3 separate regions of the Homo sapiens genome follow, and all the other regions are linked to region 3. Evidence: fine-mapped expression QTL. A gene starts in region 3. Each other region holds a variant in brackets. All regions are shown on one strand. Distances are from middle to middle.

What was found.
Region 1: its variant is fine-mapped to the expression of BID in whole blood (TOPMed, PIP above 0.99).
Region 2: its variant is fine-mapped to the expression of BID in caudate (GTEx, PIP 0.96).

Annotation. Positions count from the first base shown.
Region 1 is chr22:17,730,452-17,738,608 of GRCh38, forward strand. BCL2L13 (BCL2 like 13) reads left to right here. Exons shown (of 7, transcript NM_015367.4): 7 at 1-404. It overlaps BID (BH3 interacting domain death agonist), which reads right to left. Exons shown (of 6, transcript NM_001196.4): 5 at 7,566-7,778; 6 at 3,687-5,140. The coding sequence ends at 5,129. Among named protein-coding and RNA genes, the nearest start is that of MIR3198-1, 30 kb to the right of the region's middle. The variant A/T (reference allele first, on the strand shown) is at 4,978.
Region 2 is chr22:17,295,944-17,304,120 of GRCh38, forward strand. No RefSeq gene overlaps it. Among named protein-coding and RNA genes, the nearest start is that of CECR3, 33 kb to the left of the region's middle. RefSeq lists enhancers at 7,823-7,942, 8,013-8,177. The variant G/A (reference allele first, on the strand shown) is at 3,552.
Region 3 is chr22:17,770,973-17,779,115 of GRCh38, forward strand. BID (BH3 interacting domain death agonist) reads right to left here and starts at 3,497. Exons shown (of 6, transcript NM_001196.4): 1 at 3,409-3,497. LINC00528 (long intergenic non-protein coding RNA 528) reads left to right here and starts at 6,318. Exons shown (of 1, transcript NR_103718.1): 1 at 6,318-8,143. RefSeq lists enhancers at 826-965, 6,353-6,832 and silencers at 3,006-3,335, 3,366-3,435, 3,456-3,505, 3,526-3,625.

The DNA.
Region 1 (8,157 bases), 41 kb before region 3:
CCCACAGCTACTGTTCATTTCCTCAGGCTTTGCGCTGATTCCCTCAATAATATGACAGTAAGGCAAGTAGTCTCCTTGCCTTTCTCCTGAAAGGTATGAGATGTGGACATTTCAGTGTTTGAATTATTTTAAGAGATGTTTTATAGAAATAAAACGTTTTGTAGCTAAGAATTTTCCCTTTCTCTTAATTTCTTACATCTTTCCACACAAACTTATCTTTCCAAGAATTTGAGGTGGTGATCATACCCATCAAGACGGCCTTGTAGGCTATCTGATTGCTAACAGACACGACCTAGAGCTTCTGCCCAAATTCCCACACAAGCATTATCTCGTTTAACATCTCAGCGACATACTGGATACCAGAATAATGTTTCCTCTTCTCTGGTGCACCAAAACCTGCCCTTAGTGATAATCTCTCAATTATGACATTCATTTGAGTTTAGGGTGTATAATTTTTCCTAAAAAAAATTCATGTCGATAATTATATTTTAGCAAATACTAGTTGAGCATTTATAACATGCCAGAGACGGTTCTAGTGCTCTCACATACCTTATTTCACCTTCACAGTTCTAATAGCTGTTTGTATTCCTTTTATTCCCATATTACAGAATGAAGAACCTAATCAGAGTTTGTTAGTTTTTCTTTTTCCTTTTTTTTTTTTTTTTTTTTTTTTGAGACAGAGCCTTGCTCTGTCGCCCAGGCTGGAGTGCAGTGGCACAATCTCGGCTCACTGCAAGCTCCGCTTCCCGGGCTCACGCCATTCTCCTGCCTCAGCCTCCCAAGTAGCTGGGACTACAGGCGCCCGCCACCATACCCGGCTGCTTTTTTTGTATTTTTAGTAGAGACAGGGTCTCTACTATGTTAGCCAGGATGGGCTCGATCTCCTGACCTCGTGATCCACCCGCCTTGGCCTCCCAAAGTGCTGGGATTACAGGCGTGAGCCACCGTGCCCGGCCCAGAGTTAGTTTTTCTAACGTCCTCAAGCATAGGCGAGGCAAGGCAATGATTTTGCCGGTTTTTATCATTTTCCTGGCACTGCAAAGCAGTATTGGCAGGTCCCCTGCAAACAGTTGCGCCAGTTGTTTACTGCATAAGGACTGACTGGGGACAAATTCCGACGTGCAGCCTGTGCTCTGCTCACCATGCTGTGGGCTCTGGGAGAAGCGAAGTATTTTTCTAATTTGTACAAAGGCACCATATAGGCTCACTTAAACATTAAGCATGTTCTACTACAAAAAAACAAGAGTGAGGGTTAGGTCCAGGACTGGTCTCAGCTTCCAATTATGTAGCTGTTTTCCCTGTAGACATTGAGTGAGATGCTTTGTGGTTACAGAATTCACAGTCATTGCCGATGAGCTTTCATTAGCTTTCTTGATTAAATATTTTTGCTTGTAGACAAGGTTAGGCAATCTGTCCCAGCAGTTATCACAAAGTGCTAAATGAGGGGGGTGAAGACAGCACCACGATGCATTTCTTGGTCTTTTTCTGTTTGTTCGAGTTCGTCCCTTCTCCCCTGTGTATGCCATCATAAGGGTGGGGCTGTGGAGTGAAGTAGGGGAATACCTGGAAGCATTGCTTGGCCTCTGGACAGACAAAGAGGTTGGGGACTTAGGAGGGTTGACCAGGTATGGCCACAAGTACGTCAGCTCCTGGAGGATCTTCCCAGTGAAAAGCCTCCTACTACATTCCACAGCACTTCATGGTAATTATAACCTTGGCTAGATAATACCTGCTGTATGGTACAGAATAGTGACATTCAATTACCTCATATATAAAGAGAGCTCCATGGAGAGCTGGAAAGTGCATGCCACTACAATATTAACACATCCCATCTTCCCTTTCTTTTTGCAAGGCTGTTGAATTTCAGCCCGGCATCCCCACACACTAACACCATCAGGTCTTCCACATTTGATGGTTACACCACAGGAGCCCACACCAGACTGCTGCTTCCCTGTGAGCTCAGAGTGAAATTGTTCTCAGGGGTATTTGCAAGGCCTTGTCATCAGTTAAAGACTAGCAGCTGACTCCAGGTGATTCTACCCCGCTGTCACCTCTCCAAAGGGGAAATTGAATAGTGGTATTGCTCACTGTGGTGAGTGTTCTTTGCACCACCAGAAGAAACTGGTTAATGAATGTACTATTTAGAAGAAAAGTTTTGACATTTAAAGATTACTAGTTGTTCCCTTTCCCCAGGAAAAGAAGGTCAAAGTACAGTCTTCCCTGTTGCAGAGTTTGGAATAACTCTGTTTGCCCTGATGCTTTCCAGCAGGAGAACTGTATTATGTAGAGGGGTCCTTGGCCAGCATCAAAGGAAAAAAATTATTTTTTTCCTAGACCTGTATTTTTCCTATTACAGTCTTCCATTTATTTCTTCCTCCAGATTAAAAGTGCCTCTTCCTACCTCATTCCTTAATTAAGGTCAATTTAGTGTTGGCTCAAATGCTTTCATCTCAAAAATACCGGAATTGAATGGTAATTTGGATAATTAAGTTATCGTGCATTTTAAGCAGCATGTGTTTCCTTTTTCCGTGTGAGTTCCATGAGCCTCTGCACTGCCGCTCTGCACTGCTGAACTGATCACTGTGGGTCATTCTGGCTCCTCTTCCTTCCTGTCATCTACCTTTTGGCCAATCTACTCTTCATCAGGGGAAAGGAACAAACTTCAAATCTGTGAGTTATTCTTTCTGTCAGAAGCAACGTGCTAGAGAGAATACATGGGATTTGAAGATAATCAGTGGACTCATCTTTCTATCCACATGGTAACTATGCCCTTGACAGGTGGTATCATTTCACATCATCAATTGTCTTTGTTAAGTCCATACTTAATTGGTTTGACTCCAGGTTTTGAAAACAAGATCGTAACATTCAAAGGACTCTATATTCCAATTCTCAGCTAGCACAACTAATAAAGTTGCTGGACAGTAAAACTAGGCGCCAGTGCTGTGATCCTTTAAGGAAGCCTTGAGTATCGCAGCAGTTAATGCTGGGTCCTAAGAGGAGAGGTCAGGAATGATTTGACCTTCTGAATGCACCAAATGTCCCACGTGACTTTCAGATACACCAAGCATCTTTTCAAGGAGAAAGCTTTTGATGTTTAACAAAAGAATTTCCATCACTTAATTCAAATATTTTTAAAACAGAAAGGAAAACACATTCTCTGAATTAAAGTCACCTTTGAATCATATCCACAAGGATTGTGTTACAGGGCAAAATCCACCAACTGCCAGGATATGCCCGAGTCACCATGGCTGGGAAGTGCTCAAGACTGGAACATTTGTGTTTGAGACAATGGAATCTTTTTATAATGTTGGCTTTGGGAGAAGGGGTGACGGTCTTGCTTTACAACCAAGACTATCTCAGACTTGGTCTGGAAGAATTTACACTAAGACCTGTTATAAAATGGTGGCCTACTGTATGAATTCAAGTGAAACAGAAGCAGGTGAAGATGCTGTGGAAGAGTCAGTGTGTGAGAGAGGTGGTCCAGAGTCACTTGCTGCTTAAGAACACTTTCCCATTAGTTCCGGGTGATGACTGCATACAGCTCCTTTGGGAAGAAAATGCCTCCCCCAGTGAGAATCTGATTATAATGGCTGACGTATGGATGGATGTGTAGGCGCAGTGTGGTTCAACCTGTTTCCATTGTGGTTGGAAAACTTTTTTAAAAGTCCACTCCAAAACATGAAAAGTCGTAGTGTTAGGAAGATTTATTTCCAAACAGTGGCCTCCACACTGCGCGGCAGCACTTCTTTTTAGTATTTGTAAGCTTTTGCCCACTTTCAATTGAGCCAGCCCTAGCGTGGTATGTATTGCATGCTGAACAATATAGAGTTTGTTTTTCCTTTCTGATGATTTTAAACTCTTAAAGAACAGGAAAGCATCTGGTAAGAAGAAATCATGAGTCCGTCAGTGCCCTTACTCATATGCGTCTCCAGTGGCCTCATGTTGTGGTCACAGGAGTTTCCTGTTCACAGCAATGTGTGTGATATGGACCCAGCATCCACTGTCGTGCTTTTAAACTGATTCCTGGGACATAGCTTACCACTGGAACAGCAGACCAGTGTTGCACTGTTTCTAAAGCTAAGCTTTTCCTTATTTATTTTGGTACTACCTAAGTGACTTGGTTTTGACTGTCCCTAAGAGAGGGAACCACTTTGCTGAATTTTTAAAAAGTCCAACTGCTCTTTCATCTTTTATGCTTAGAAACCTGTTCTCTCCAGATGCACTTCTGAGGCATGGATGAGCTGAGCGTATGGCTAGAAATTGGAAGTTTACAGCTATTACCAGGGGGCTAACTCCCGGGGCATCGCAGTAGCTTCTGGCACCCGTGGCTTCATGTCTTTAGCAAAGTCTTGATGTCATGGAAAGAGAAAAAGTGTATGCAGTTAGTTACCTGATTTTGTAAACAAACAGTGGCTGACCTGGGCCCTTAAATCACCTTCACACCTTTTAGAACCACAAGTGGTTCTTTTTGACTCCAACAAAGGAAACGAAGTTGAAAAAGTCAAGCCCCTGTGTACTGGGGCCGGACTTCCCATCATTTGAGTGCAGCACTTTAGTTCAGAATCTCTGTGCCATGTGGTTTTTTAAACAGGAAGATTGTTGGTTCCTTAGTATTAAGATAGATAGTCCCTATTTTGAGTGGAATTTTTCATTTGTAAGGGGTATGTTCCTTCTCTGATTCTTGCTTTCCTCAAACAGGATACTGCCTGCTGTAAGACCATCCTCTATGGTTGTACTTTAATAAACAGTAATTTTTTTTTACCAAAAAAATTGTATTTTGTTTCTACTTCCTTGAAACCTGCTTTCCAATTTAATTTTTAAGTGGGAACCTGCACAGTGGAAATAAAGGCACCGTGTGTAGATTTACAGATGTGCAGATTCATGTGTGGATGATATGAAGGCCATTCAAATACGTGTAAATGGACATTTTCATTCAAGTATATTAATGTAGATATTTTAAAGTGGGTTATAAGTTTA[A/T]CATTGTCTTTAAAATAGAAGTCACAGCTATCTTCCAGCCTGTCTTCTCTAGGAACGCTGTTGACATGCCAGGGCTCCGTCTACACTGGAAGCAGCTATACAGCTGTGACCACATCGAGCTTTAGCCAGTCACACTTCTGGAACTGTCCGTTCAGTCCATCCCCTAGAGCAAGAAAGGAGAAAAAGCCAGAATCAGCTAGGCTCATTCACAAACCAGGCTCCAGAGCTCTGTGCCACAGTAGAGCAAAGCTGGGGTTTATGCAAAAACATGTTCTCCAGACCCCTGAAGTCCTATCCGTGCATCCTACTTTTTGCTACATGGGGGCAACTGCAAAAACAGGCCGTTCAGGCGGTGAGGTGGGTATTCACATCTCCAAGGCACTGACGGTGTCAGGAGGCCCCTGCTGGGTCAGAGGAATCACGATTCTGCCTCAGCCCTCAGTCTCTGGTAAGCTGTCCATACAGACTGCTGCACACGTCTTGCCCACCCTTTCCCCCTTTACATGGGTGTTGGTAAAAGCTGTCCAGGAATGGTCTCAGGCTTACCTCCTTCCAACAATTCAGCTGGGTTTAATGCCTGATTTAAGATTTATATTCATTCTCCTGTTTTTAAAATGCTTGTATAACTGAAGACCACAGCATATAAGGAATGTTTTCTTATGAGTTCTCAGTAGAGGATTAGATGCTATTTTACTTAAAAACCAAAGCCTGAAGTAATGCTTCTGACATGTCATAAAATCCCAAACATTAGGCCGGGCGCAGTGGCTCACGCCTGTAATCCCAGCACTTTGGGAGGCCGAGGTGGGCGGATCACCTGAGGTTGGGAGTTCGAGACCAGCCTAACATGGGAGAAACCTCATCTCTACTAAAAATACAAAATTAGCCGGTCATGGTGGTGTGTGCCTGTAATCCCAGCTTCTTGGGGGGCTGAGGCAGGAGAATCGCTTGAACCTGGGAGGCAGAGGTTGTGGTGAGCTGAGATCGTGCCATTGCACTCCAGCCTGGGCAACAAGAGCAAAATTCTGTCTCAAAAAAAAAAAAAAAAAAAATTCCCAAACATTCGCTAATATTTTTAAATTTACAAATAAGACACATCCACTTAATTTCCATTTGGGTCTATGAAACAGAAGCACCAGATTTTGCTACATGGGGGCAGCTGCAAAAACTGGCCCTTCTTGGGCAGCATTGTGAACACTGTATGTTTGTTTTTAGAGACAGGTCTTGTTTTTGTTCAGGCTGGAGTGCAGTGGCACAATCAGCTCACTGCAGCCTTGAACTCCTGGGCTCAAGCAAAGAGATCCTTCTGCCCCAGCCTCCTGAGGAGCTGCCTCAACCTCCATGACGGCGTGAACTACAGGCGTACGCCACCATGCTCAGCTAATTTTTTTTTTTTTTGAGACAGTCTTACCCCATCATCCAGGCTGGAGTGCAGTGGCGTGATTGCGGCTCACTGCAACCTCTGCCACCAGGGTTCAAGCGATTCTCCTGCCTTAGCCTCCTGAGTAGCTGGGATTACAGGCGCCCGCCACCACACCCAGCTAATTTTTTTTGTATTTTTAGTAGAAACGGGGTTTCACCATCTTGGCCAGGCTGGTCTTGAACTCCTGACTTCATGATCCGCCTGCCTTGGCCTCCCAAAGTGCTGGGATTACAGGCGTGAGCCACCGCGCCTGGCCCTCAGCTAATTATTTTTATAAATTTTTTAGAGACAGGGTCTCGCCATGTTGCTCAGTTTTGTCTCAAACTCCTGGCCTCAAGCAATCCCACTGCTTCTGCTTCCCAAATCGCTGGGATTACAGGCTTGAGCCACCATGCCCAGCCTTTAGACTGTGACTTGTAATACCTGGTTATGGGACAGATGTGCTCTGGAAAAGATTTCAGACAGTTCCCCCCCTTTTTTGACTACTCGTTTTGGTTCACATTACACCTTTTTTTTGAGATGGAGTCTTGCTCTGTCGCCCAGGCTAAAGTGCAGTGGTGCGATCTCAGTTCACTGCAACCTCTGCCTCCAGGGTTCAAGCAGTTCTCCTGCCTCAGCCTCCTGAGTAGCTGGGACTACAGGTGTGCGCCACCATGCCCGGCTAATTTTTGTATTTTAGTAGAGACGGGCTTTCACCCTGTTGGCCAGGGTGGTCTGGAACTCCTGACCTCAGGTGATCCACCTGCCTTGGCCTCCCAGAGCAGTGGGATCACAGGCATGAGCCACCGCACTGGCCACATTACACTTATTTTTTATGGCAAGGTGAGAGGTCTGAAAAGCTCATTGTGAGCCCTCCAGCCCCTTCCTTCCACTCTGTACCTGCTTGTGCCTTGAGGACCCCACCAGGAGTGTGACGTGAGCCTTTGCCACCCCTCTGAATGGAGCATGTCTCCAATAGTAAGCTGCTAAAGCTCCAAAGGACTCTGGGTGCTCTTCGTCACCTTTACACACAGCTTTCTAGCTCACAACAGCAAAACCAAACCCGAGCAGGACAGCCTGTAACCCTTGTGCTGGCATCAGAGGCAGGGGCCCCGCTGGGCTTCTCAACCTTCCAGAGAAAAGGGCATGGGCGGCAGGCAGGGAAGGAGCTGACCTCAAGGGTTCTTACATTTCTGGCTAAGCTCCTCACGTAGGTGCGTAGGTTCTGGTTAATAAAATTCACTGTTGTGTGAAAGACATCACGGAGCAAGGACGGCGTGTGACTGGCCACCTTCTTGGCCAGCAGCAGGGCCAGCACCAGCATGGTCTTCTCCTTCTCCATGTCTCTAGGGTAGGCCTGCAGCAGCTGCTCCAGGGCAGTGGCCAGGTCCCTGTTCCGGTCCTGCACAGAGGGGCACACAGAACCTGGTTTACTAATACTCTTCCCTCTCAAAGGAAAGACAGTCCCCAGTATGAAGAAGCACTTCAAAGTACTTATTAAGTATCCAGGGCTGCTGGGCGGAAAGAATGAGAAACAGTTGAGTTCTGAGAGGCAATGGAAAGGGAAGACTGCAATCACTCCCTGCAGGGGGCTCGGTAAGCAAACGCATGTGTGGTGAGCCCATGTGCCCACTGTTAGACGGTGATGGGATACAAGAAGCCTGGGTCATCCCTGCGCCCAAGGCACTTCGAGTCCAGAACTAGTGACCACCTGCGACGCCTTAGGCCCATTTTATTGGTGCAGACCTAGCTGAATGGACAGGAGGAAGGGGGTTCCTGGG
Region 2 (8,177 bases), 480 kb before region 3:
GGTAGGCTATGAATTATTGCCTCAATTTCAGAGCCTGTTATTCGTCTATTCAGGGATTCAACCTCTTCCTGGTTTAGTCTTGGGTGGGTATATGTGTCCAGGAATTTATCCATTTCTTCTAAATTTTCTAGTTTATTTGCATAGAGGTGTTTATAGTATTCTCTGATGGTAATTTGTATTCCTGCGGGATTGGTGGTGATATCCCCTTTATCGTTTTTTATTGTGTCTATTTGATTCTTCTCTCTTTTCTTCTTTATTAGTCTTGCTAGTGGTATATCAATTTTGTTGATCTTTTGAAAAAACCAGCTCCTGGATTCATTGATTTTTTTGAAGGGTTTTTTGTGTCTCTATCTCCTTCAGTTCTGCTCTGATCTTAGTTATTTCTTGCCTTCTGCTAGCTTTTGAATTTGTTTGCTCTTGCTTCTCTAGTTCTTTTAATTGTGATGTTAAGGTGTCGATTTTAGATCTTTCCTGCTTTCTCTTGTGGGCACTTAGTGCTATAAATTTCCCTCTACACACTGCTTTAAATGTGTCCCAGAGATTCTGGTACGTTGTGTCTTTGTTCTCATTGGTTTCAAAGAACATCTTTTCTTTTTTTTTTTTTTGAGACAGATTCTTGCTCTGTTGCCCAGGCTGGAGTGCAATGCTGTGATCTTGGCTCACTGAAACCTCCGCCTCCCAAGTTCAAGTGATTCTCCTGCCTCAGCCTCCCGAGTAGCTGGGATTACAGGCACCCACCACTATGCCCGGCTAATTTTTTTTGTATTTTTAGTAGAGACGGGGGTCTCACCATGTTGGCCAGGCTGGTCTTGAACTCCTGACCTCAGGTGATCTGCCCGTCTTAGCCTCCCAAAGTGCTGGGATTACAGGCATGAGCCACCACCCCCAGCCTCAAAGAACATCTTTATTTCTGCCTTCATTTCGTTATTTACCCAGTAGTCATTCAGGAGCAGGTTGTTCAGTTTCCATGTAGTTGTGCAGTTTTGAGTGATTTTCTTAATCCTGAGTTCTAATTTGATTGCACTGTAGTCTGAGAGACAGGTTGTTGTGATTTCTGTCCTTTTACATTTGCTGAGGAGTGCTTTACTTCCAATTATGTGGTCAGTTTTAGAATAAGTGCAATGTGGTGCTGAGAAGAATGTATATTCTGTTGATGTGGAGAGTTCTGTAGATGTCTGTTAGGTCTGCTTGGTGCAGAGCTGAATTCAAGTCCTGGATATCCTTGTTAACCTTCTGTCTTGTTGATCTGTCTAATATTGACAGTGGGGTGTTAAAGTCTCCCATTATTATTGTGTGGGATTCTAAGTCTCTTTGTAGGTCTCTAAGGACTTGCTTTATGAATCTGGGTGCTCCTGTATTAGGTGCATATATATTTAGGATAGTTAGCTCTTCTCATTGAATTGATCCCTTTACCATTGTGTAATGGCCTTCTTTGTCTCTTTTGATCTTTGTTGGTTTAAATTCTGTTTTATCAAAGACTGGGATTGCAACCCCTGCTTTTTTATGTTTTCCATTTGCTTGGTAGATCTTCCTCCATCCCTTTATTTTGGGCCTATGTGTGTCTCTGCGTGTGAGATGGGTCTCCTGAATACAGCATACTGATGAGTTTTGACTCTTTGTCCAATTTGCCAGTCTGTGTCTTTTAATTGGGGCATTTAGCTCATTTACATTTAAGGTTAATATTGTTGTGTGTGAATTTGATCCTGTCATTATGATGTCAGCTGGTTATTTTTCCTGTTAGTTGATACAGTTTCTTCCTAGCATCGATGATCTTTACAATTTGGCATCTTTTTGCAGTGGCTGGTACCAGTCATTCCTTTCCATGTTTAGTGCTTCCTTCAGGAGCTGTTGTAAGGCAGGTCTGGTGGTGACAAATATCAGCATTTGCTTGTCTGTAAAGGATTTTATTTCTCCTTCACTTATGAAGCTTAGTTTGGCTGGATATGAAATTCTGGGTTGAAAATTCTTTTCATTAAGAATGTTGAATATTGGCCCCCACCCTCTTCTGGCTTGTAGAGTTTCTGCTGAGACATCCGCCGTTAGTCTGATGGGCTTCCCTTTGTGGGTAACCTGGCCTTTCTCTCTGGCTGCCTTTAACACTTTTTCCTTCATTTCAACCTTGGTGAATCTGACAATTATGGGTCTTGTGGTTGCTCTTCTCGCGGAGTATCTTTGTGGCATTCTCTGTATTTCCTGAATTTGAATGTTGGCCTGCCTTGCTAGGTTGGCGAAGTTCTCCTGGATAATATCCTGAAGAGCTTTTTCCAACTTGGTTCCATTCTCCCCGTCACTTTCAGGTACACCAATCAAACATAGATTTGGTCTTTTCACGTAGTCCCATATTTCTTGGAGGCTTTGTTCTTTCCTTTTTATTCTTTTTTCTCTAAACTTCTCTTCTCACTTTATTTCATTAATTTGATCTTCAGTCACTGATCCCCTTTCTTCCAGTTGATCGAATCAGCTACTGAAGCTTGTGCATGTGTCACGTAGTACTCGTGCCATGGTTTTCAGCTCCATCATGTCATTTAAGGTCTTCTCTATACTGTTTATTCTAGTTAGCCATTCATCTAATCTTTTTCCAAGGTTTTTAGCTTCCTTGTGATGGGTTCAAACATCCTCCTTTAGCCTGGAGAATTTTATTACCGACCTTCTGAAGCCTACTTCTCTCAACTCATCAAAGTCATTCTCCATCCAGCTTTGTTCCATTGCTGACTAGGAGCTGCGATCCTTTGGAGGAGAAGAGGCGCTCTGGTTTTTAGAATTTTCAGCTTTTCTGCTCTGGTTTCTCCCCATCTTTGTGGTTTTATCTACCTTTGGTCTTTGATGATGGTGACCTAGAGATGAGGTTTCGGTGCGGATGTCCTTTTTGTTGATTTTGATGCTATTCCTTTCTGTTTGTGAGTTTTCCTTCTAACAGTCAGGTCCCTCAGCTGCAGGTCTGTTGGAGTTTTCTGGAGGTGCACTCCAGACCATGTTTGCCAGGGTATTACCAGTGGAGGCTGCAGAACAGCAAATATTGCAGAACAGCAAATATTGCTGCCTGATCCTTCCTCTGTAAGCTTTGTCCCAGAGGGGCACCCGGCTGTATGAGGTGTCAGTTGGCCCCTACTGGGAGGTGTCTCCCAGTTAGGCTACATGAGGGTCAGGGACCCACTTGAAGAGGAAGTCTGTCTGTTCTCAGAGCTCAAACACTGTGCTGGGAGAACCACTACTCTCTTCAGAGCTGTCAGACAGGGATGTTTAAGTCTACAGAGGTTTCTGCTGCTGGCTTTTGTTCAGCTGTGCCCTGCCCCCAGAGGTGGAGTCTACAGAGGCAGGCAGGCCTTGTTGAGCTATGGTGCGCTCCATCCAGTTCGAGCTTCCCCTCTGCTTTGTTTACCTACTCAAGCCTCTGCAAGGGCAGACGCCCTTCCCCCAGCCAGGCTGCCGCCTCCCAGTTTGATCTCAGACTGCTGCGCTAGCAGTGAGCAAAGCTCTGTGGGTGTGGGACCCACTGAGCCAGGCGTAGGATATAATCTCCTGGTGTGCTGTTTGCTAAGACCCTTGGAAAA[G/A]GGCAGTGTTAGGGTGGGAGTGTCCCGATTTTCCAGGTACAGTCTGTCATGGCTTCCCTTGGCTAGGAAAGGGAAATCCCCTGATCCCTTGCACTTCCTGGGTGAGGCGATGCCCCACCCTGCTTTGGCTCACCCTCCATGGGCTGCACCCACTGTCCAACCAGTCCCAATGAGATGAATAGGTACCTCAGTTGGAAATGCAGAAATCACCTGTCTTCTGTGTCAATCACGCTGGGAGCTGCAGACTGGAGCTGTTCCTATTCGGCCATCTTGGATCCGGACCATCACCACAAAAACTTTTTTAAGTCCATCAAGGAAACAGAAGTGATCTGTTGTTCCAGATTTGGGATAATAAAAGAACACGGGCTCTGACTTGGATCATGCTGTCCTCCTGTCCCGGCTCTGCTCCCCGCTTGCCTGTCACCCTCCTGGACCTCAGTGTCTTCAGCTGTCAGACAGCAGTAATGTCTCTTAGCATTATAGGCATTATTAGATAAAGGCAACATAAGTAAGACACCTAGCATGGTGTTCATGCTTAACAAATGCTTCTTGCTCTTGTCACCCCACACCTTTTGTTGGTTAAAACATGAAATCCACATATTTTACTTTACCCAACTTGATTTAAAGGTATAAAAGACAAAATGAATGTCGAAAATGAAATCAGGCTGGGTATGGTGGCTCGCACCTGTAATCCCAGCATGTTGGGAGGCCTTGGCGGGAGGATGGCTTGAGGCCAGGAGTTTGAGACCAGCCAGGGCAACAAAGTGAGACCTCATCTTTACAAAAAATAAAAATAAAAATAGCTGGGCATGATGATGCACACCTGTAGTCCCAGCTACTTGAGAGGCTGAGGTGGGAGGGTCGCATGAGCCCAGGAAATTGAGGTTGCACTGAGCCAAGATCGCACCACTGCACTGCAGCCTAGGTGACAGAGCAAGACCCTGTCTGAAACAAAGTGTAGCATTTGACCCTTGCTGTTTTACTAGAGGGACTGTTTGATAATAAAATATTGCTGGGGTGTGGAGTTCCTATGTGATATGGGAAGTTTCTATGTGATATGAGAAGACCCTCCCTAAATCTGGGCAGCCCTGTAAAACCCCTTGTACTCTATAGCTTCATACCAAACACATTTGCATTACAGAGTTCTCTAGCATTTCTACAATAGAAATTTGGAACAGGAATGGTGGAAATAGAAACATAATTAATGGAGGCAGAAAATCCATAAACAATTATGTCTCTGCAATAAACACCAATAGCGAGAAGCAACCAGACCAGTATGGGCTGTGGCTGTATCAAAACGACTGTACTGGGCCAGAGACCTAGCCCTAGTCATCCCTGGTTAAGGTAATTAATCTTCCAGTGAGAAGATAACATTATCTCTACATTGTGTTTATGACTTTATATTATTTTCAATTCGGTTTATTTTCCCAAAACAGTGACTTTGGTTAATTTCATTTAGGGATTCAAGGTATTCTTCTGTTTGCTTTCTAAAGTTCTGAATTAAAAGAACCCTACCAAAATAGTTAAGGAGGGAACTGTGTTTCTCAACAAGACTGAAAGCTCTTGTTTGTTGTAGCGTCAGAGGCCAGGGCTATGCCTGAAGGTAAGCACTCTCTTTGCTGGGAACGATTGATTGGCTTGAAAGAGATGGACCCAGACAGAGGTGTGGCAATGACCTTGTGCCCAGAGCAAGCAGACATGTGACCTGCCCCCTATAGGATAGTGCCTGAGAGGATCTTTCCTTGTTTGGTTGGTTGATTGGTTGTTTTTTTTTTTTGAGAGACAGGGTCTCACTCTGTTGCCCAGGCTGGAGTGCAGTGGTGCAATGACAGCTCACTGCAGCCTCAAACTCCTTGGCTCAAGCCATCTTCCCACCTCAGCCTCCTGAGTAGCTGGGACCACTGGCATTCACCACCTCCCCCAGCTAAGTTATATATTTTTTGTAGAGTTGAGGGCTCTCTATGTTGCCCAGGCTGGCCTGAAACTCCTGGCCTCAAGCGATCATTCTGCCCCATCCTTCCCAAGCACTGTGGTTACAAGCATGAACCACCGTGCCTGGACGTCCCTGTTTGGGGTACTGCTCCTTACAGCAGGAGCTAGCCAGAGCAGGGAAGAAGGGTAGAGAAAAAAACTGGAGAAGAATGAGAAAAGAATATCCAATAGTCCCGTTCCTGGCCCAGCCTAGCCTACCAGATTGTTGCCCAAACAACTCCTCCTCTAAACGCCCCTCCTCCTGGCTCATTCCTGTTCTGCCACCTCTACACCCCAATAAACCTTTCTCTTCCCAGGGTTCTGCTCTTTGTGTAGCAATTTGCTAAACAAGTATTTTGCTAATGGGCAAACAGGAGAATGCTAGACTGGATACTCTTGGGCTCTTGGTAACAATTTCATATTTAGTAGTGGTTTCTGGGTAGACAATGGCTTTGCTCATCAGAATTGTAAAAGGCCTGGAAACCTAGGAATGATCTTTTTTTTTTTTTTTTTGAGATGGAGTCTCATTCTGTCACCCAGGCTGGAGTGCAGTGGCTCAATCTCAGTTCACCGCAAACTTTGCCACCTGGGTTCAAGCAATTCTCCTGCCCCACCCTCCCGAGTAGCTGGGATTACAGGCATGCACCACCGCATCTGGCTAATTTTTATAGTTTTAGTAGAGACAGAGTTTCACCATCTGGGCCGGCTGATCTTGAACTGCTGACCTTGTGATCCACCCACCTTGGGCTCCCAAAGTGCTGGGATTACAGGCATGAGCCACCGCACGTGGCCAGAATGATCATCTTTATCATGAAAATGAGTTATCTGCAGTTCTGCCCAAAGATGACCAGGGTGGTCTTATAGACTGAAGTGGGCTTCTCCAGCCCACAAATTCAAATGTTGAAGCCCTGGCCCTCAATGTGACTGCATTTGGAGAAGGGACTTTTAAGGAGATGATTAAAATGAAACGAAGTCAGCCGGGCGAGGTGGCTCACGCCTATAATCCCAGCACTTTGGGAGGCTGAGGTGGGTGGATCACCTGAGGTCAGGAATTTGAGACCAGCGTGGCCAACATGGGGAAACCCCGTCTCTACTAAAAATACAAAAATTAGCCAGGCATGGTGGTGGGTGCCTGTAATCATAACTACTCGGGAGGCTGAGGCAGAAGAATCACTTGAATCTGGGAGGTGGGAGCTGCAGTGAGCCAAGATCATGTCATTGTACTCCAGCCTAGGGACAAGAGCAAAACTCCATCTCCAAAAAAAAAAAAAAAAAAAAAAAGGATTAAATGAGGTTCTAAGGATGGAGCCCTAATCTAATACAATGGGTGTCTTTGTAAGAAGAAGAGAAGAGACAGCAGGAGTGCACACAAAGAGGAAAGGCCATGTGAGGACACAGCCAGAGGCGGCCTTCTGCACACCAAGGAGAGAGGCCTCAGGAGAAACCAACCTTGCCAACATCTTGATCTTGGACTTCCAGCCTCCAGAACTTTGAGCAAATACATTTCTGTTGTTTAAGCCCCCAGGTCTGTGGTATTTTATGATAGCAGCCCCAGTTGATTAGTACCGATAGTCAATGGCTACAGGGGACGATTCTGTCAGTACACTAAGCTGTGGGCAATGGTGCCACAGAACACATGGGGGCACCTTTAGAGAGCTTCAAATTCATGCCAAGATTTGCAGGGAACATTGTTTTCATGTTGGGACAAATACAGATAATTTATGGGATACAATGCACAATTCACTTGACTTTTTTTTTTTTTTGAGATGGAATTTCCCTCTTATTGCCCAGGCTGGAGTGCAATGGCATGATCTTGGCTCACCACAACCTCTGCCTCCCAGGTTCAAGTGATTCTCCTGCCTCAGCCTCCTGAGTAGCTGTGATTACAGGCATGCGCCACAACGCCCGGCTAATTTTGTATTTTTAGTAGAGATGGGGTTTCTCCATGTTGGTCAGGCTGGTCTTGAACTCCCGGCCTCAGGTGATCCACCCGCCTTGGCCTCCCAAAGTGCTGGGATTAGAGGCGTGAGCCACCACACGCGGCCCGCTTGACTTTTTAAGCAAAGAATAATATGACAAAGACACGCCTCCCGCAGCAGTATTCTCCATCGTATCAGTTTGTGTTCAGCCAGGAAAATCGGCACTCCAGTGCAGCAAGCTGGTTCCACAGGTGCTGAGGGACTTACAGCGCAGGAAGCCGTTGCTACTCCTAGGGTTAGGAAGACACAGTAGGAGATGACGTTGCCGGGCTCCTGAAGACAGGGTTCCGTGTTAGTGGGTGGAGGTGATGAGGGAAGCTGGGACCAGGAAGGGAGATGATGTCCAACTAGAGATGGAACTGTGCAGGAGACACTGCCTTTGCACGACATGGGGCCCTTGCAGGAGGAGGAACACCCTGCCTTCCTCCTGGCTCCCACACTCCAGTCTTCTGCAGTGCCCCCAACAGCCAGAAAGCATGGGAGATGGGGAAATGTGGTTCCCGACCAAACAGGCTGGAGCAGAGCATGGGGTAGTGAGGACAAGTGGGCCCGCAGGCTGCAGGTGGGTACATTGTGGTGAGAATGGAACCACAGGAAGCATCGGCGTAAGGGACTTTCCTAGTGCTGACGCCTACGTTAGGGGTGAAGGGTATTTCATCATGAGTAGATGAGGTTT
Region 3 (8,143 bases):
TGGGGCCACAGCAGCCACAGAGGCCACCCACGGCTTCCACTAGGACAGTGTGTCTTTCCAGTTACTCTACGTACCTAAAAGTGACCAGCCCCCTTTCAGGTCTGGTCTATGATCCAGATGGTGATCTTTCCCCCACTTTTTTTTTGAGACGGAGTCTCGCTCTGTCCCCCAGGCTGGAGTGCAGTGGCGCGATCTCGGCTCACTGCAAGCTCCACCTCCCGGGTTCACACCATTCTCCTGCCTCAGCCTCCCAGGTAGCTGGGACTATGGGCGCCCCCCACCACGCACAGCTAATTTTCTGTATTTTTAGTAGAGACGGGGTTTCAACGTCTTAGTCAGGACGGTCTTGATCTCCTGACCTCATGATCCGCCCAACTCGGCCTCCCAAAGTGCTGGGATTACAGGCGTGAGCCACCGCGCCCGGCTGGTCTTTCCCCTTTAAGACCCCACTTCCCACCCCCACCCTGGCCAAGCTGATAGGATTCAAGGAGTGCGGCGGTGCAATCACAGCTCACTATAGCCTTGACCTCCCGGGCTCGAGCAATCCTCCCGTCTCAGCCTCCCAAAGCCACTTCCTCCTTTTCTTAGTTGTTGGCTTCTTCTACAGAAAAGGATCCTGAAAACAAACACCTAAAATGCCAACCAAGAATTCAATCTGCAAGGCAGCAGCACCTCCAGAAATAGCTGCTTTGTGGCCTGTTTGCCATTTATGTGAAACTTCCCCATTTTGGACCAACGCAGGCAGAAAGAGAAAAGGAGGAAGAGGAAGGAAAAGAGGCAGGCTGTGTTGGGGCTGGATGGGGCTGTAGGAACCTGCCAGCAGTGGCTCTTGGGGAAAACCCCACTGCGAGGTTTCTGAACCCCTGCCCCGGAAGCTTCCCCTTTCCCACACACGTCACTCGCTGCCTTGGAATCTGGGCTGCCTCCCTCCCAGGGGCTCACAGGGGAGCGAGGCCACAGAAAGGCTCCTTACCCCCAGTGGCCTAACAGGTGTGACATGTGGAGGGGGAATCTGGGCAGTGTGCCTGATGCTCAGAGCTGAGACCCTGAAGTCCAACTCCCTCGGGTGTGACCTTGGACAAGTTACTTAGCCTCTCCTTGCCTCAGTTACACCATCTGGAGAATGGGGATGCTACCCTCGTCTGACCACCGTGATGTGAGCCAGTCAGCACACATCAAGTGCTCCGTGAGCGTCCGGCACACAGGTGCTTGTCTCTGTCCTGTGCTTCAGCTCCATCAGTGTCTTCTTCAGACCTGTCATTGGCTTGGGGCAAGGATATATGTGGCCGCTGAGGGCGGTCCGCCAGGTATGGCAGCCATGGAGCTGCTAATTAGGCCCTGTGAGTGGGAGGCCCTGTGGGGTGGGCAGGGGCAGACGCCCAGCTGCTCTCGGGGACACTCCAGGCCTGTGCTGCCCTCCACAGCCCCAGCTGGAGAATGGTGACCAGATGTCAACGACAGGAAGCATTTCCAGAGGCCACAGCTCTGCAGGGAGGTCTCTCATGGGCTGACAGCCAGAGCCAGCGCTCCGGGTCCCCTGAAAAAACGGGCACAGTCCTCGGTCACGTCGAGGACCTGCTCAGCCCCTCCACTTGGCACCGGAGAGAGGATGACTCACGGCCCTTCTGCCTGGAAGGCAGGCTCCAGTGTCAAATGTCCATCCGCCTCCATCACCCTCATCCATCCTTGTCAGTCCAGGGGCCTGGGCACTGCTGGGGCTCCTGGGCAGACAGTTCCCCCTTGCAAATGAGTGGGACCCTCAGCTCCTTCGATCAGCATCCTCACGTCAGCCGAGCCTGTGAGCACCCCTAAGCAAGGCCTCTGAGCTGGGCATGCGACACCCCTTCCCACCCAGGCACCCTCCCCCTAGAATCCCCCATACCACCCTGGGGCCATGCCCCGCTTCCCTCTCTGGCAAGCTCCTGCACAACCTTGAGACCACCTGACAGCCACCGTCTATCCTGCCCAACCTCCTCAGAAGCACTAACAGCACCTCGCCCCAGCCACGGCAGGTCTCTGCACCCCTCGTCTCAGTCACCACTCTCACATCTCATGAACAGAGACACGAGCTGCTTCCTCATGCTCCCTGTGCCCGTCCTGGGAGATCCCTGCCTTTAAACCCCAGCCACGAACTGCTGACCCCGCATTTCCTCTTCCCTCCCTGGGCAAGAGGGGCAGAAGGGGCAGGGACGCACACCCTGGGCCGCAGGCAGAGGCTTGGCCAGGGTCGTCCTCCCGGCAGTGCCTCCCTGGAGCTCTGTCTACCTCAACTCCTGATGCCAGAGGATCCCTCTGCGCTCCCCACACCCTTAAGACCCCAGCTCAGGGAATCTGGTCTCGGTCATCACTCCCAGGGGACTGCAGGGCCCCAGGACGGCACACATTCAGGCCCAGGAGAGCTCCCCCCATCTCAAAGCCTCCTGTGGGTGGAGATGGAATGTGGAAAAACCGCATCCTCTGCAGCTCCCCCACAGTGAGAGCGAGGACTGAGGGTGTGGATAAGGCTCCAGGAAGGGGGTGCAAGCCTGAGAAGGTGGAAGAGCTCTGGGTGGGTCCATCTGCTCCTCACCTGCCCCAACCCTGCCTGCAGGTGAAGGCCGGTCCAGCCGCAGAAGGCCCAGCCCCCAGCCCACTTACAGAATCCGCACTGTGCTCCTCCAGCCGGCCCGGCCCCTCGCTGCCCACCGAGCCATCATGACCCCAGCACCGCTGCACATTCGTATTTGTTGAATGAATGAATGAACCCTTGCCAGCCCAGCCACTTGGTGGCTGAGGGCTTCAGAGCTCTCCCAGGGTCCCCTGGGGTCATTCAGCCACTCAACAGTTTCCCAGCAGCAGCAGCGAGGATCCGCACATCATTGCCAGTGCTCTAAGGAGCGGGCGAGCCCCAGTAAGCGGCCGCTCTGACCGCGCTTTGTCAGCCCTGAGCTCCGCTCGGGAGGAGCCGGCAGGTGTCTGCGGTGCTGGAAAGACCACGGTGTGGGCGGGGATTCCGATCCGCCGGCAAGGGTGGCCTGCACCCGGCCAGGCCCGCGGGTTTTCTCCTCTCCGGGGCTGGCCTCGGCCCCTCCCCCTCCCCGCGCCCCGCACCCCTCCCCTGAATCCCCAGGCCACGTGGAGAGGACACAACAAAGCCTTCCCCGCCTCCGAGGCGGACCCGACCCTCAGCACCGACCTGCCGGCCGCGCCGAGGAGGGCGCCCGGGCGGAGGGGAGGCGGGAGAGACCCGGCCCTCAGGTCGCTGCTGAGGCCTGGGGCTCTGACCCCCCGCCTCCCCTCCTCTGGCTCCCACCGCGGTCGGGCCCAGGGCGGGCGGCGGGCCCTGAGCTCCACGCCGGGGCAGGCGGCAGGCAGGGGTCACGGGCTGGGGCTCGGCGCGTACCCCGGGAGGGGCGCGGGTGCACTCACCACCCTCCAGCCGCGGGGGCGCGGGCGCGTCCGGGCCGAGGCAGCGTCTCCCAGGCGCGCGGACACGGTCGACTACCCGCTTCCTCCTTATGGCGCCCCGCGCGCTTCCTCCTTCGGCCCCCCACGCCCGGGCCCGCCCCGGCCCGCCCCGGCCCGCCCCCGGCGGCTTGCGGGGACCCGGGGAGCCCGCGCCGGCGCGGGGCTGTGGAGCGGGGCGGGGAGCCGGCAGCGCAGTGAGAACCAGGCTTTCCACCCTTACCCCTTACGCGACTGTTTCAGACAGTGTCGTCCAACTTTAAGTTGGCCACTTACTCCAGCGCCGCTGGGATAATTCCTAATGATTCTCTGGGAAACATTCAGAATCCCCAGGCTGTTTCTGGAACAGTCTGGGGTGGTCATTCTAGGTCCTCACGGAACCAGGGGTTTGGAAAGTGGGTGAAGCCATGTGGGTTGCAGAGAATCTGGCCCAGCCCCTCACCAGTCCCTGTGCTTGTTGTTTATTCTTTAATTATTTGGATATCAACTCTGATTTAAAACATCAGTTTAACATATAGATAATGCTGGGACTACAGGCGCACACCACACCCAACTAATTTCTTTTTCAGTTTTTAGTGGAGGTGGTGGGGGGGGGGTCTCCACCTCTGGAGGTCTCAGGCTGGTCTCGAACTCCTGGGCTCCAGCGATGCTTCCCACCTCGGCCTCCCAAGGTGCTGGAATGACAGGCCAGTCCATGCATCCCCGGATGCAGCTCTCACCGGCAGTGCTGCTGCAGAGCCCTTTGTGGGCGTCTTCACTTCTCTTGAGTGTGATACCTAGGAGTGGAAATGCGAATCATAGGGCTGGACGAGCTTCATGGTATTAAAAACTGCCTGCTTTCCAAGGTGATGCACACCGTTCGGCACTTCCACCAGCCCTGTTGGAGCGTCCAGTTGCTCTGCGCCCTCGCGTGGGCTCACTCCCTGAGCCCACTGTGGCTCCTCCAGACGCCCTCACTTCTACCCGGGCTCCCTAGACTCTTGCCTCTTTTATAAAAGGTCAGAGGATGTCACTCACGCTTTAACATCCTCTGAATAAAAGCCAAGTTCCTTTCAGTGGCCCGCAGAGTCCCACGCGACCTGCCCTGCTCTAAGCAAATCCTACCCTGTCCCTGTTCCTCCTCGGCAGCCCCATGGCCTCTGGCTTTCACCAGGCCTCACTTCATTTTCCTCCACAGCCAGCATCGCAGCATGACATACCACGGAGTCGTTTGTGTGTGTGTTGCCTACCTCCCCTCTCGGAATGTAGCCTCCACGAGGACAGGGGCTTGTTTCCTGCATGCTCTTCACTCGGGCTGGGCACTCTGGGGGGCTAACAAATGGAAGATCCTGTGAGCAGGGAAACCGTCAGATGGCATTAGGGGCCGGTGCCCTGCAGAAGACGAAAGGGAAACTTCATGGACTGAGGCCAGGTCATCTGCAGGGTGGTGTTCAAATTCATGGTACAATGTCAGCAGGCGCCCAGATGGGAAAAGAGAGGGACGTGCACCTGGGCACAAGAAGCTGCAGGGGCCCCTCCCAGGGCAGGCGAGAGCTTGGACAGTGGGGCACAGTGGGCAAGAGGCCAGTGGGGTGGCCTGAAGGCAGGAGGCTCCAGCAGCCTGGATGAGCAGTTGGATTTTATCCTCAGCACTGTGGGGGCCACTGGCCCTGTCATGCAGGGCAGGACCTGTACCAATTGGCCCCCACAGTCTCTGCCTCTCCTGTTGGCTTTTTGCAGGTCTCTCAAGTGCTTCTTACAGTCAGGGTAGAGCCTCCCCGCCTCAATCCTCCCTGTCCTGATCTGCTGCCTCTATGATGCTTTGGGCTTCAAAATCTGTCTGCAGTATTTGTAAAATGAGAGAGGGTGATGTTTCCTGCAAAACAACCACTTCAAAAAGAAAGGGGGGCGGGGTGCCAGAAAACAATTCAGGGGGTGACGGACTGGGGGGCTATGGAAGGGTCCAGGGAAATTCCGGGGATGATGGGATTCTTCTATACAGGGATTGTGGTGGATGCCACACAATTGTACACTTTTGTGAGAACTCTGCACGAAGAATGGTGAGTTTTACTGTATGTAAAATTATACCTTAATTAACAAATGAAACAATATACACATACATGAGAGAATGATGACTTTATTTTTTTTTTTGAAACAGGATCTAGCTCTGTCACCCATGCTGGAGTGCAGTGGTGTGATCACAGCTCACTGCAGCCTTGACCTCCCAGGCTCGAGTGATCCTCCTGCCTCAGCCTCCCAAGTATCTGGGACTGCAGGCATGCACCGCCACGCCTGGCTAATTTTTTAAAAATTTTTTTTAGACGGAGTCTGGCTGTGTCACCCATGCTGGAGTGCAATGGTGTGATTTCCGCTCACTGCAACTTCTGCCTCCCGGGTTCAAGTGATTCTCCAGCCTCAGCCTCCCAAGTAGCTGGGATTACAGGCACCCACCACCATGATTGGCTGGCTAATTTTTGTATTTTTAGTAGAGACGGGGTTTCACCATATTGGCCAGGCTGTTCTCGAACTCCTGACCTCAGGTGATCTGCCCGCCTCAGACTCCCAGAGTGCTGGGATTACAGGCGTGTGCCACCACACCTGGCCTTTTTTTTTTTTTTTTTTTTTTTTTTTTGGGACAGGGTCTTGCTATGTTCCCCAGGCTGGTCTTGAACTCCTGGGCTCAAGTAATCCTCCCACCTCGGCCTCCCAAAGTGCTGGGGTTACAGGCATGAACCACTGCACCCGACCTGAATGATGTTTTTGGCAATGAAAATGAAACACAAAATCCAGCAAGGTTTGACGGGGAAGGCGAGCTGGCGACCACATAGTCACAGTCGGCCTTTGCTTCCGCTTTATGCTGCAGTTTCTCACTGTCACTTCCTGCCACCGGGCTCGTCTTCCTGTGAAAATTCAGCCCCTCTTCCTCAGTTACCCCTTTGCAACAGAACGAGGCCGGCATTTTCTAAAGCGTCCTTGAGGAGTCCAGTTCCTAAAAGATTATTTCAGAGTCCACTGTTGTGGGCTGACTTGAATGCTCTCAAAATTCGTAAGTTGAAGCCCTGACCCCCAGGACCTCAGAACGTGACTGTGCTTGGACACAGGGACTTTCCAGAGGTGATTAAGGTGAAGTGAGGTCACTGGATGGCCCTCCTCCTATCTGACTGGTGTCCTGATGGGGACGCGGACACCCACACAGGAACGGACCCGGGGAGAACAACACATCGTCTCTGCGCCAGGGAGAGAGGCGTCCGGGGAACCCAGCCGTGCCCACGCATTTATCTCCGCCTTCCGGCTCAGAATTGTGAGGAAACCCGCTTCTGTTGTGCAAGTCCCGGGTCTGTGGTGCTCGGCCATGGCGCCCCCAGAACTGCATCCCCACCTTCTGCTCTGAGCCACCCATCCCCTCTGGAAGGGCTGAGCTTCTCTCCCTTTCCACCTTCTGTTCTGAGCCACCCGTCCCCTCCAGAAGGGCTGAGCTTCTCTCTCTTTCACTGCCTATGCTCTGGGAAACTTTCAGAATCCCCAGGCTGTTTCTGGAATAGTCTGGGATGGTCATTTTCGGTCCTCACAGAACCGGGGGTTTGGAAAGTAGGTGAAGCCATATGGGTTGCAGAGAATCTGGCCCAGCCCCTCACTAGTCCCTGTGCTTGTTAGTTATTCTTTAATTACTTGGATATCAACTCTGATTTAAAACATCAATTTAACATACAGATAATGCTGGGACTGCAGCTTCGCCAGGTGGCCTTCCTCTCCCGGTCTCGGGAGGCGTCACCCCCATCTTGTCCCCCCAAGATCAAGCGAAAAGGGCAAAGTTATCTTTTTTTTTTGCAAAATTCAAACCTTTCCCTCCTTCCCAGGTCTGGGTCACTTGCGACCCTCCTCTCAGGCTGCTTCTGACAGGCCCAAGTCACAGCCAACTTCAGGGGAGCTGTGTTGGATCCCTCCAAACTCCGGGAATGATGTGACCTCCCCGGCGCTCACCCTGGGCCTCTAGGTTAGACTCAGCCCAGACCCTGGCTCACAGGGAAGCAGAGCCCATGGCTGGCCTCCACCCGCTCAGACGCCCGCACACAGGCCAGGGGAGGGCTTGGGGGCAGCTCTGGGAGGGTCCCTGTTTGCGCTGTGGGTGTCCAAGGCTGGGTGTGCAGAGCTGAGGTTGCCACACACCTGAGGGACTCTCGCATAAGGATGGCGCAGGGCTGGAAGCTGGACTGAGACAGTGAATGAGACAGCGCTGCCGGCTCTCTCCGCGCCGTGGACTGGCTCCTAGGCAGTCTCACGAGCAAGTGTGCTGTTGCTCGTGCACGTGTGTTTTAACTGAGATGTGAGCTGGCGCGTTTTCTCCACCCGGCTCCATCTGCTGGGTCCCTCCACATTGCTGCGCGTGTGCCTCCAGTGCCATGGGGTCCCCACTGTGGGCAGCCCTGCATTTTGCCCAACTGCCTCCCAAACCATGGAACCCCAGTGACCTCCAACTTGCCGCCATGACGAGCCACTCTCATTCATATCCTCAAACACGGTGCTCTGAGCCCGAATGAGGGTTTCTTTAGAGAGATATCTGGGGACCAAACTGTAGGGACAGAGCTCCCGTCTAAGGTGGGCCTGTGGTGAGGTCTCCCCAGTGGTACACTTTAATCCCACAGCAGGGCTTGCAGGCCGCCCTGCTCCATCCCCACCAACACTGGGCAGGATCTAGCCTCCAAACCTTTGCCAGTCTAAT